Linked DNA regions of Homo sapiens. The protein of the gene in region 2 interacts with the protein of the main gene of each other region in a biochemical or structural test. Each region holds a gene or a part of one and is shown on either strand. Other genes may lie near its edges. The genes, in order: ZYX, LATS1 and LOXL2.

Region 1 (3,648 bases), on a different chromosome or scaffold from region 2:
GCTATCGGTGCTGCTTCTGCCCACTTTCAGGAGAACCCTGCTCTGCACCCCAGAAAACCTCTTTGTTTTAAAAGGGAGGTGGGGGTAGAAGTAAAAGGATGATCATGGGAGGGAGCTGAGGGGTTAATATATATACATACATACACATATATATATTTTTGTAAATAAACAGGAACTGATTTTCTGCCTCCATCCCACCCATGAGGGCTGCAGGCACTACAAAAGAGCTGACTACTGAGAATTCTGGAAAACAAGGTTTTTTTTTATTTGTAGCTATAGCTACAACTTGGCAGCATGGGGGAGGGTGGGAATGTCCTGGAGGGTCTCCCAGCCCTCCGCAAGCAGAGTACAAAGGCTGCTCGGGGGGCCGGCCGAGGGCGCGGGTGCAGCAGTGAAAGCAGCAGCACTAAACCTGGTGCCCCCCTCAGGTGGGGTGTCTGGAAGACGGTGGGCAATCCCTGCAGGATGGGCGAGGACCAGACCCCAGGGCGGGGATCCTGCATCCCTAGACCATGTTGGGTCCTGGGTCAGGGCACCTGGGATGCTAGGGAGGGGTTGGAAATGGGAGGGGCTAGACATCAAAACAATAACTGAGGTGGGGGCAGGTGGTCTCAGTGTGGGTGGTCCACAATGGGGCATGGACTGCGGTCTGAAGAGGGCCTGTCCTCACTCAGGTCTGGGCTCTAGCAGTGTGGCACTTCCGACAGAGCACGTGACCGTCCAGGGGGAAGCAGCCATTGTCATCTGCCTCAATCGACAGGGGCTTCCCGCAGTCCTGGGAAGAAGGAAGGGTGAGGGGCACTGGACCGGAAGGCCCCTGCTCTGCTCCACCCTACCCCACCCCATCCAGCTCCATCTTGGAATTAGAAAGATGCTTCATGGCTCAGAGCTGGTGTCATCGCTTTTTCCAGCCACACCCAACTCCCCATCCCTATCCTACTTCCAGTCACCCACTAGGACCTTCCTGCAAGAGGGCAAGCAGTGGGTAGAGCTGCTCCCAAGGTGCTTGCTCCCCTGCCCACCACCACCCTAATAAAATAGAGGTTGGCTCACCTCCATTCGAAGACCTCTTCTCTCAGCTCCTGTTTCCCCATCCCCTACCACGGTAAAACACCATGCCCTTCTTCTCTCCTATTGGCTTGTCCCATTTCTTGGCTTATCCATGACTCAAAGTGACCTCAGAAGCCCCACAGCCCCATTTCCTGCAGTGGCAGGAAGCATTCTGGCAGGACAGATGGGGTGCCACCATGAGCCACCCTCAAAATCACAGCCCTGTTTCCTGAATGCTGGTGCTTTCCACCTCCCAGTTAGTAAGCAGCATCTCCCGCCACCTCCTGGTCAGAACCTGCCCAAGGAGTCCAGAGGGATGGCTGACCTCACACTTGTAACACTTCATGTGGAAGTTCTTGTCCAGGGCGACCACTCGCACAGTCTCATCTCGGCCAGGCTCAGGCATGATGGGCTCAGAGCAGACGGAGCACCTCGGGGCGTACTGCCTGGAAGGGGCAGAAAGGGCCAGCCGAGTTAGCCAGGGCTTTCATCCCCGGTGTGCGCACGCATAAGCCAGGTTGGGCAGCAAGGAAGCAGACTTCTCTGCCCTGCATCTCCAGGTGAAGGAAGCTCACCAGAAGGGCCTAAGAGTGAGACACCATGACTGGCCCTCATCAAAGGGAATTTCCTGCCTCACCAGTCACTCTCCCAAAGCAAGGGAGCCTCCCACACACCTGCCACGGTGTTCTCTCCCACTCGACCCTTACTGTCCCATTCACACTGCAGCTCCTGCAGAAAGCCAGCCCTGAGGTACCCCTCCCATCCCATCCTGGGTCCCTGACCCTCACCTTCCCCCAATCCTCCCACCCCCATGCACGTTGCCTCTGCCCTGACTGTCTGGCACTGTGGAGGGATGTGAAGTTGTGGCCACCCCAGATGGAATCCTGAAAGTGTTTACCCAAACACTCTGTCAGAGGTGGGGGTCAGATTCTGCACTGTTCCCACAGCTGCACTGAGGTTCTGCGGGTCAGCCTGAAAAAGTAGCCACCTTCTAAACACTATTTCTGGGGAGAAACCAGAAATCCAAACAGCTGATCTCCAAAAGAACTTTTAGAACCCAGCCTGTGTGTGAGATGAAGTCACTCCAGCACACTTCACGAAATGCTGACATACACCCACAATAAGCTTCAGTGATCAAGGGCGAGGGAGGGACCAGACAGCAGCAGGACTCGATGCCCAGGCCTAAGGCCCCTGGACAGCTACATCCCGATGACTTGGTCCCTGCTGTTTACAGACAGGACATGGGACCAGAAAACACCACCAGGGGTTTGGGGCTGTCCTGAGGCTAGGGTAGCAAGCAGCCGGGCTACCAGACCAAGCACGCCGGGAACCCAGAAGGCAGGTGGCAGGTCCTCACTTGTGGTAGTCGGGGACACAGTGGGGCCGGTTGGCCTGGTCCACGATGAAGGAGGTGCCCTCCAGGGGGCGGGCGCAGACCACACAGGTGAAGCAGTGCGGGTGATAGGCCTTGCCCGTGGCCCTCAGCATGCGGTCAGTGATGGGCTCCCCGCAGGTGTTACACTTCTCCAGGGTGTCCTGAGGAGGCAGCAGGAGGAGGTTGGCAGGGAACCGGCACCCCACAGCAAGCTTCCAGGGCCCGACTGCCCAGCACAGCCCAGCACAGCCCAGCACAGCCCGACTCACAGTGTAACAGCCCTCGCAGTACGGCGCCCCCTCCAGACTGTAGAACTGCTGGCCCTGGAGCTGCTGCGCACACTGGTGGCAGGTGAAGCAGGCGATGTGGAACAGCTGCCCTAGAGCGCGGACGGCTGGCTGCGCCCGGGCCAGGGGTTGATGGCATCGGCCGCAGAGTTCTGGGAAGGCCAGAGAAGACAGCAGTAAATAGAAGGAAGTATGTAGAGCTGCGAGGGATCAGCCAGCTCAGATAGGGAGTGGAGCCACAGCCCTGGCCCCCACCGTGATGTGGGGGCAGGGTGGGGGTGTCCCGGTGGGGTGGGCTCACCGTTGACAGCCACATTCTGCCTCTGAGGATGCTCCATGTCCTGCATTAGCTGCTGGGTCAGCTGCTCCAGCTCCTCCACCTCCTTCAGAGTCAGGGGCCCTGGGGCCCCAGGGGAGCGCACCTGCAATCCCAACATTTTCCTCACACTCTAGAGGGCTGCTGCCTCCAAGAACCTTCCCAGGCCAGCCTACCCGGCTTCTTCCGATGAGGCTTAGCTCCCAGCTCGTGTCCCAGATGCTCAGGCTTGACCCTTAAAGCTTCTCCCTCGTCCCCCTACCCCCGCCATCCCCAGCACCACACAAATAACAGGGGAAGGGACCTAAGCCTGGATCTCGTACAGCAAGACATTTCCACCCACTCTGCCCAAACCCCCTGAGCAGTCACAGACAGGCCAGAATGACTGGGCGGACGGAGGCCACGCACACAGCAGCTCGGGTCACTGAAGCACCGGACACTCCAGGGCCACGCATCAACTCCACAGAGCATGCTCGGACATCGCCCCCATGGGACAGGGGCACGCAATGGCGTGCACACACGCGCACACACACCTACCCGGCCTGCCTGCTGCTGAGCAGCCCCTGTCAGCGTGAGGATACAACACAGGCAGGAATTGCAGGTTAAACCCACTGAGCTGT
Region 2 (3,648 bases):
AGAGAGTTAAAAAAGAAAAAAAAAGGAAAGGAAATGACTGGATCCTAGAATGGTTCTGCTACAAATTCTTATTTAAATACATGCAATTAAAATACACAGGATTCATTTTAAAGAAACTATTATTTCCATGAAACAATGTCACTTCATTTATCAGGGGAAATAACAGAAGCATTACATTTGAATATTCATTTCAATTTTAATTGTACAAGACCACCCTGGTCAATATGGTGAAACCCCGTCTCTACTAAAAACACAAAAATTAGCCGAGCGTGGTGGCAGGCACCTGTAGTCCCAGCTACTCGGAAGGCTGAGGCAGGAGAATCGCTTGAACCACAGAGGCAGAGGTTGCAGTGAGCCGAGACTGCACCACTGCACTCCAGCCTGGGCGACAGAGCGAGACTGGATCTCAAAAAAAAAAAAAAAAAAAATTTCAATTGTAAGATAATCTAAATCTTCTGATCTCAAAAACGCTGAAATGGAGGAATTGTGTATATCTTTAGCCAATTGCTTTTGGTAAATATATTCTGGCAGAGACTATATTCACATACAGTACTCGACTCCATTTCCCAGATTTGGCCAAAGCTGGATGAGCAGATGTAACATATCTCAATTCTGGACTGAGGCAGTTAAAAGTCACTTTGCTTCGGTTTTCCTGCTTTAATGACAATGTAGGTTACATTCTGAGATGGTGGCTTGACAATATGGAAGGAAGGTGGATCCCTAAGCCACTGGATGGAGAACCCTACTGACTCCCACTGAACTCTGAGCAAGAGAAACATTTCTGTTGTGTTAAGCCATTGATATTTGGGGATTTGTTACCACAAAACAGCCTAATAACATTGTGAAAATAGACAAAGACTGCCCAAATGGAAACAAACAAAGGCTATTTAATTAGATCTTACTATATAGGTAGGGAGTCAGCCACTGTCAACTTGTGCTTGGCAAAGATTCAAAGGCAAGCAGGGGAGTGGGAAATCTTTATACTAAAAAAAGGGGGAAGACATCAGGTATGCTCTGATTGTAGGTTGTTGGCATGGGAAACTGGAGGTGGGCTAACTGATGTAAACCAAAAATAAAATTCTAAGTCCTTCAACCATCTGAATGAACCCCTCCTCCCAGCCAAGAGCATTTGAAAGTTAACCTGAAAAACTAGTTCCAGCCATGATGGGAAGCGGAGTTTGGCCATACCTCATTATTCCCTCCTCCCTGTTGGAATTCAGGCACAGCTGACCAGCACTAACATTAAAACAAATCTTAAGACTGACAAAACAGACTCTCTGTAGCAATAAGATACCCAATTCCAGCCTGACTCTAGCATAGTATCACATGACAGATGGCAGGCCCTGAAAGAAATCCAAGTATTTGACCCCAAATTATGTTTCTTTGCCATATCTTCAAACAGTCCTGCAAAGCTGTCTCTTGTGCGGAAAATCTACATTCTGAAGTTAATTCCCTTCCTTTCTCAGGCCTTTTGCCTGATCCAGGAGAGAATCAACCCTGATAAGAAACATTTACAATGTATTATCTCTGAAGCCTGCCACCTGGAGGCTTCCTTTACATAATGGGAACTTTGGTCTCCACAACCCCTTACCTTGGCTCAGACATTCCTTCCTATTGATTCTATCTGCATAATGGGAACCCTGGTCTCCACAACCCCTTATCTTTTTTTTTTTTTTTTTTTTTTTTTTAGATGGAGTCTCACTCTGTTGCCCAGGTTGGAATGCAGTGGCTTGATCTTGGCTCACCACAATCTCCGCCTCCCGGTTTCAAGTGATTCTCCTGCCTCAGCCTCCTGAGTAGCTGGGATTACAGGCGTGCGCTACCATGCCTCGCTAATTTTTGTATTTTTAGTAGAGATGGGGTTTCACTATGTTGGCCAAGCTGGTCTTGAACTCCTGACCTCGTGATCCACCTGCCTCGGCCTCCCAAGGTGTTGGGATTACAGGCGTGAGCCACTGTGCCTGCCCACAACCCCTTATCTTAACCTAGATACTCCCTTCTATTGATTCTAGGTCTTTAGACAGTAACAACTCTTTCGACCAACTGCCAATCAGAAAATCTGTGAATCTACCTATGACCTGGAAGCCATCTGCTTCAAGGTGTCTTCCTTTCTGGACCTAACCAATGTACATCTTACATATACTGATTGATGTCTTATGTCTCCCTAAAATGTATAAAACCAAGCTGTAGTCTGATCACCTTGGGCACATGTTCTCAGGAGCTCCTGAGGGCTGTGTCATGGGGCAATAGCCATTCATATTTGGCTTAGAATAGATCTCTTAAAATATTTTACAGAGTTTGACTCTTCGTCGACACTGGAAGCGGGGTATCCTATGTGGTTGATTTGGGAAGCATATTTGGCTTTCTCTGAGTCGTCCCGAATTGGAAGAAGGCACAAAAATTAGGGAAGCTGGTAATTACTGACCAAGTCCTGACTGGGCCTATTGCTACATAGGTCATGGGTCAGAGTTCTAGTTTTATATATGATCTGGCCATTGTCCATCTGTATATTCAGTGTTTCATTATCCTAATACAGAAAACTGGTACCTGGAAGTGAGGTGCTGCTACAATAAAAACCTATGCAGTCCTGCCTTAGTGATACTGCCTTAGTGGTCAGATTAAGGGCTGAGAGGAAACAGATACCGGAGGCTGGAAAGATGGAGGATCATGTTTTATAGTGGCAAAATATCTGGTAACGCTGTTGCCTATAATAACTTTTCATACAACTACAAGGTCAGTGAACATACAAAGAGGCTACTGACCTTGTAGTGTTATAGGAGTTTGGTAAAGAGGATTTTGGAAGTGAGTATTGGCTGCTATTAGATATTTGGCAAGTATTATAAGTAAATGATGAGTTCAAGAAGGAAGTAGTAGATTTGAAAGCAAAAACAGAAGAGAATAGAAAAAGTTCAGAAATTTAAAGCCTTGAAGGATTGGAAAAGCAGCTTGTACCTAGACCCCTAGAGGCAGGATTAAAAGACTGAGCACAGATGCCCACTGAAACCCCTTAGCTAACTAGTGCTTCTGTGGTTAAGACCATATTAAAGACGTAGCCTTCCCATCAAACCTAATAGCCTCAAACAACCAAATGAGAGGAGGAGGAATAGACGCTCTTAAATCTTTGGATGAGTTTACCAATACATGTGAACTTCGACTGTGGTTACTGACACATAGAACTGAAGGAAACCAAACAGATCGGAAGAGGCTTACTAACTTTAAAGAAACTGTTTTGTTAAAAAAAAAAAAAATATCTTTTGGCCGGGCACGGTGCCTCACACCTGTAATTCCAGCACTTTGGGAGGCCGAGACAGGCGGATCACGAGGTCAGGAGTTTGAGACCAGCCTGGCCAATAAGGTGAAACCTCATCTCTACTAAAAAATACAAAAATTAGCTGGGCGTGGTGGCATGTGCCTGTAGTCCCAGCTACTCAGGAGGCTGAGGCAGAAGAATTGCTTGAACCTGGGAGGCGGAGGTTGCAGTGAGCGGAGATTGTGCCACTGCACTCTAGCCTGGGTGACAGGGTGAGACTCCATCTCAAAAAACAAAATGAAATTTTTTTTTCTTAAATCATCTCAAGTTCATACTAAAAAAATCTTCTTGTCTATTCAAAATTTAAAACCCTTGGGTCCCCGACTTCTATGAGCAAG
Region 3 (3,648 bases), on a different chromosome or scaffold from region 2:
CCCCCTTGTCTGACAACAGGTGTTTTAAATTGAGGTTGAAATAAAATTAAGTTGTCACTGGAAAAATACCCAGTCACTGGAAAGCATTTGTTATAAAATAATGAGCGTTGGAAAGCCTGGAATGGAAAACATGAATCTGAGGTTACCCCTGGATCGCTCAGCCAGCCGGATAAACAGAGATGTGGAAGTATCGGACGTTTGTTTAAAGAAGACAGGAAGTGGGTTCTAAAGCCCAGCATTTGCTAACTTCACTGCTGTGGCTCTCATCGCCCAGAGCAAGCTGCAGAGAACATTTGACTCTGTGCTGTCTCCTGATCCAGTTACCCCAAAAGGAAATTTTCAATTGCATGGAGGTGAGATGTGTATGAGATGGGACTTCCTTTCTCCTATAATTTCTAGAATAACAGAAAAGTTGGAAGGGAGGATAACAGTTATCAATTTCAATGACTCCCAAACCTGTCACTTTGCAGACTTCCAAAAGAGACAGAGTCCTGGGCTCCAGCCCAGACCTTTTAAACTAGATTATGGTGGGTTGAGGTCTGCGCTATTCTGTACTTTTAAGCTCCCTTGGGCGATTCTTACGCAGTCAGCATGGCATTAGCCCTTTAGTCCAGGACAGGAGTATAGGCAGCTCTGCTTTAGTCCAGTAGCCAGACTTGTGCTGAGGTCTGGGCTGCAGCTCAGCCGGGCGGGAGGGTGTGGGAGCTTCCTTTGCCTGGCTGACCCAGAGATAGGAAACTCTTAGCTCCTGGAAAAATGTTTAAAAAGAAACAATTCCCTCCACCCTTATCTCTTTCCTATTTGGGAACATACACTGTCAGGGTTTCAGGGGTTCTTAGCCCAACTTCCAGATGGGGAAAATGAGGCTGGAGAGGACATGCGTCTTCCTACAAAGTGTGGTGTCAGAGGTCAGTACAGACTGAGCTCTAGGTTCAGGGCTTCAAACTTTGTCCTGCCTCAAAGCTGTTAAAGCAATTTTTTGGGTTTTTGTTTTGTTTTTTGTTTTTTTGAGATGGAGTCTCGCTCTGTCACCCAGGCTGGAGTGCAGTGGCGCGATCACGGCTCACTGCAGCCTCCGCCTCCCGGGTTCAAGCGATTTTTGTGCCTTAGCCTCCTGAGTAGCTGGGACTACAGACACTCGCCACCATGCCCGGCTAATTTTTGTATTTTTAGTAGAGATGGGGTTTCCCCATGTTGGCCAGGCTGGTCTCGAACTCCTGACCTCAAGTGATCATCCCGCCTCCGTCTCCCAAAGTGCTGGGATTACAGGTATGAGCCACTGCGCCTGGCCAGCTCTTAAAACAATTTTTAAAAATAAACTAATAAATTTGAACCTCACAAGGGAGGAAAGAATAGGCTAACCAACGGTGAAAAACCCAAAGCATCTGTGTGCCTATTGTGACCAAGCCCACAATAGCAGGTTAGTGTGAAAACGATGAACTCCACATGCCAGGAAGGTGGGGGGCGTCAGGGAGCTCCAGCATGTGGGAGCCATTGTGAGGAAGAGCAAGAGGCTTTCCTAACAGGGAACGATTTGGAGTAAAGCGCAACTTCCTCTGGGCTGACGCAGCCCCCAGGCAGGGCATATGGGGCGGAGAGAGGAGCACAGGCCGATTTCACCCCCTACCTGGGGTCACCAACTGTCCTGGTTTTCCTGAGGTTTTCCCAGGATGTGAGACTTTCTGTGCTAAAGCCAGGAAAGTCTTGGGCAAATCAGTATGGTTGGTCACTTACTGTGCCCCTCCTCAAGCCCCCCGACCCCGCCTTCCTGCAGGGTGCAGCCTGAGTGGGCACAGAAGGATGCCAGTCCCTGGATGGGCATCACCAAGAATTTACACTTCGCAGTGCGTGCAGCCTCCTCTCCCAGGCTGACCTCAGGGAAGGCCACTCCGGGCCTTGCCAGGTGACAGCACTCAGATCCAAAGCACAGAGCGTTTACCTTCTCCCTTGCCGTAGGAGGAGCTGGCAGTCCAGGACTTGGCCTCCACGTAGCCCAGCTCCCGGCAGACGACGTGGGCAGCGTGGATGGAGAAGTCGTCATCGCACACGGTGCCCCACTGGCCATCATAGTACACCTCCACCCGGCCCTCGCTGTGCTTCCTCTTCTGCCCAGCCAGGCGCAGCTGAATCTTGGCCACGTTGGCGGGGGCCTGGGGCTGGTGATACTCAGGAGCCGGTTGCTGGAAGTACTCGGGGTAATGGGGCCAGCTGTCATACTGTGCCAGGCTCAGGGGGGACAGGAGGGCCAGCATAGCCAGGCAGCTGCAGAGGTGGGAGCACAGAGGCCTCTCCATCCCTGTCTTCGGGCTGATGATCCCACGAAGGGGCCCTGCGCAGCTGGGAGGGACAGGCGGGGTACAGAAGCAGCAGGAGCTTTCTGGAAGAGAGGAGAGATGCGTTAGGATGGGAACGTGGGGCTACGGAGACCTACATAGAGAACCAGCGATTTCATACCCCTTGGCTTAATATGGAAAGCTCGTCCATTCTCGACGCCAATCCAGCCCCACTCCTACATTTCCACCATGCAGGGCTGGGAGGTCCCACCTCCTTTACCTACTGCCTTGTCATCTCTCTAGAATGCTTTTTCCAGTAGAGTTCCTGGCAGGGAACAGAACACACTCCAACTTAATTTAAGGAGAGTTTTTTAAGACTACGGACATGCCGGCAGAGTTCTGCAGAACTAACAAAGGCCGGTGTCACACCCTAGGGCTGGCGACTCAGAGGGGGCTGTGACCACCCTAGGCTTGAAGGGAGCCTGCGGGGGTGAGAACTGGAGACTGGCAGAGGGAGCTGTCTCTTAGGAGCTGTGGCCCTCACTGGAGGGTCTCAGAGCCAACCCATGGCAACGGCGGGGACATGGGAGGGAGAATAAATACCTGACTCCCTTTCCTCCCGTCTTTGAATCATTCTGGTGCCTCCTATTAGGCAAACCCAGCCCCCTTCAACTCGAAGCCACTGGCAAGGGAGCTGAGCCCATTGAGGGAGCCCGTGTGGGACAGCCTCCTGGAACATGGGGGCCGGTGGAGAAGGAGCGGGTCTGAAGGGGTGAGGGCAGGATGTTCAACACACCCACCCTCCATTAAATGAATGGCACCCCAAAACACTACAGGAACATTTGCTAGATGAATTATAATTTTCCCGTCAGCTTTGAGGGCTGCAATGCTAAATGAGTTTTAAAATCCTCAAGGTCCTGGTCATCGTATCTGGTGGAGCCTACCTCTAAGAATTCCCGAGTGAAATCATGTAGCAAGAGACCTCGTGTATCTTGGTCCTCCCGTAATTCAGAGAAAAGAGGAGACGATTTTAAAAGGAGCACACGTGTGTCTTGTGGAGAAACATGCAGGGCCCCAAACCAGGATGAGCAGGTGGAAGCTTAGGTGGGGGCATAAGGTATTTTATTTTAACCCTATGCAGAGGAGTAGGCTAATCATATTCTTCTGGTCATGGCACACTACCTTTGAGGAAGGACTGGCTAACTTTCCTGTAGTCAGAGCTGTCCAGAGCTGCCCATGGAGGGATGATCTGCCTTGGAGTGAGGCAGTTCCATGTCTGTTGGGTGACCAGCAGTGCTCAGTGCCCCGAAGAGGATGCTGGGGTGGAGATGTTAGAGCCTGGGGGACAGTCAGAACTGAGGATTTTGGAAAGCTT

What was found.
Region 1: the proteins of LATS1 (region 2) and ZYX form a complex in vitro, tested with the Homo sapiens proteins (one study listed by BioGRID).
Region 3: of the proteins of LATS1 (region 2) and LOXL2, one has a biochemical effect on the other in vitro, tested with the Homo sapiens proteins (one study listed by BioGRID).

The regions. Positions count from the first base shown.
Region 1 is NC_000007.14:143,387,705-143,391,352, reverse strand, and holds the end of ZYX (zyxin), read right to left. Parts: intron 3,135-3,648; coding exon 3,014-3,134; intron 2,865-3,013; coding exon 2,695-2,864; intron 2,587-2,694; coding exon 2,408-2,586; intron 1,497-2,407; coding exon 1,376-1,496; intron 776-1,375; coding exon 671-775; 3' UTR 242-670; downstream 1-241. UniProt on the Homo sapiens protein: Adhesion plaque protein. Binds alpha-actinin and the CRP protein. Important for targeting TES and ENA/VASP family members to focal adhesions and for the formation of actin-rich structures.
Region 2 is NC_000006.12:149,708,007-149,711,654, forward strand, and holds part of LATS1 (serine/threonine-protein kinase LATS1), read right to left. Parts: intron 1-3,648. UniProt on the Homo sapiens protein: Negative regulator of YAP1 in the Hippo signaling pathway that plays a pivotal role in organ size control and tumor suppression by restricting proliferation and promoting apoptosis.
Region 3 is NC_000008.11:23,366,058-23,369,705, forward strand, and holds part of LOXL2 (lysyl oxidase homolog 2 precursor), read right to left. Parts: intron 2,378-3,648; 5' UTR 2,295-2,377; coding exon 1,940-2,294; intron 69-1,939; exon of another isoform or gene 1-68. UniProt on the Homo sapiens protein: Mediates the post-translational oxidative deamination of lysine residues on target proteins leading to the formation of deaminated lysine (allysine).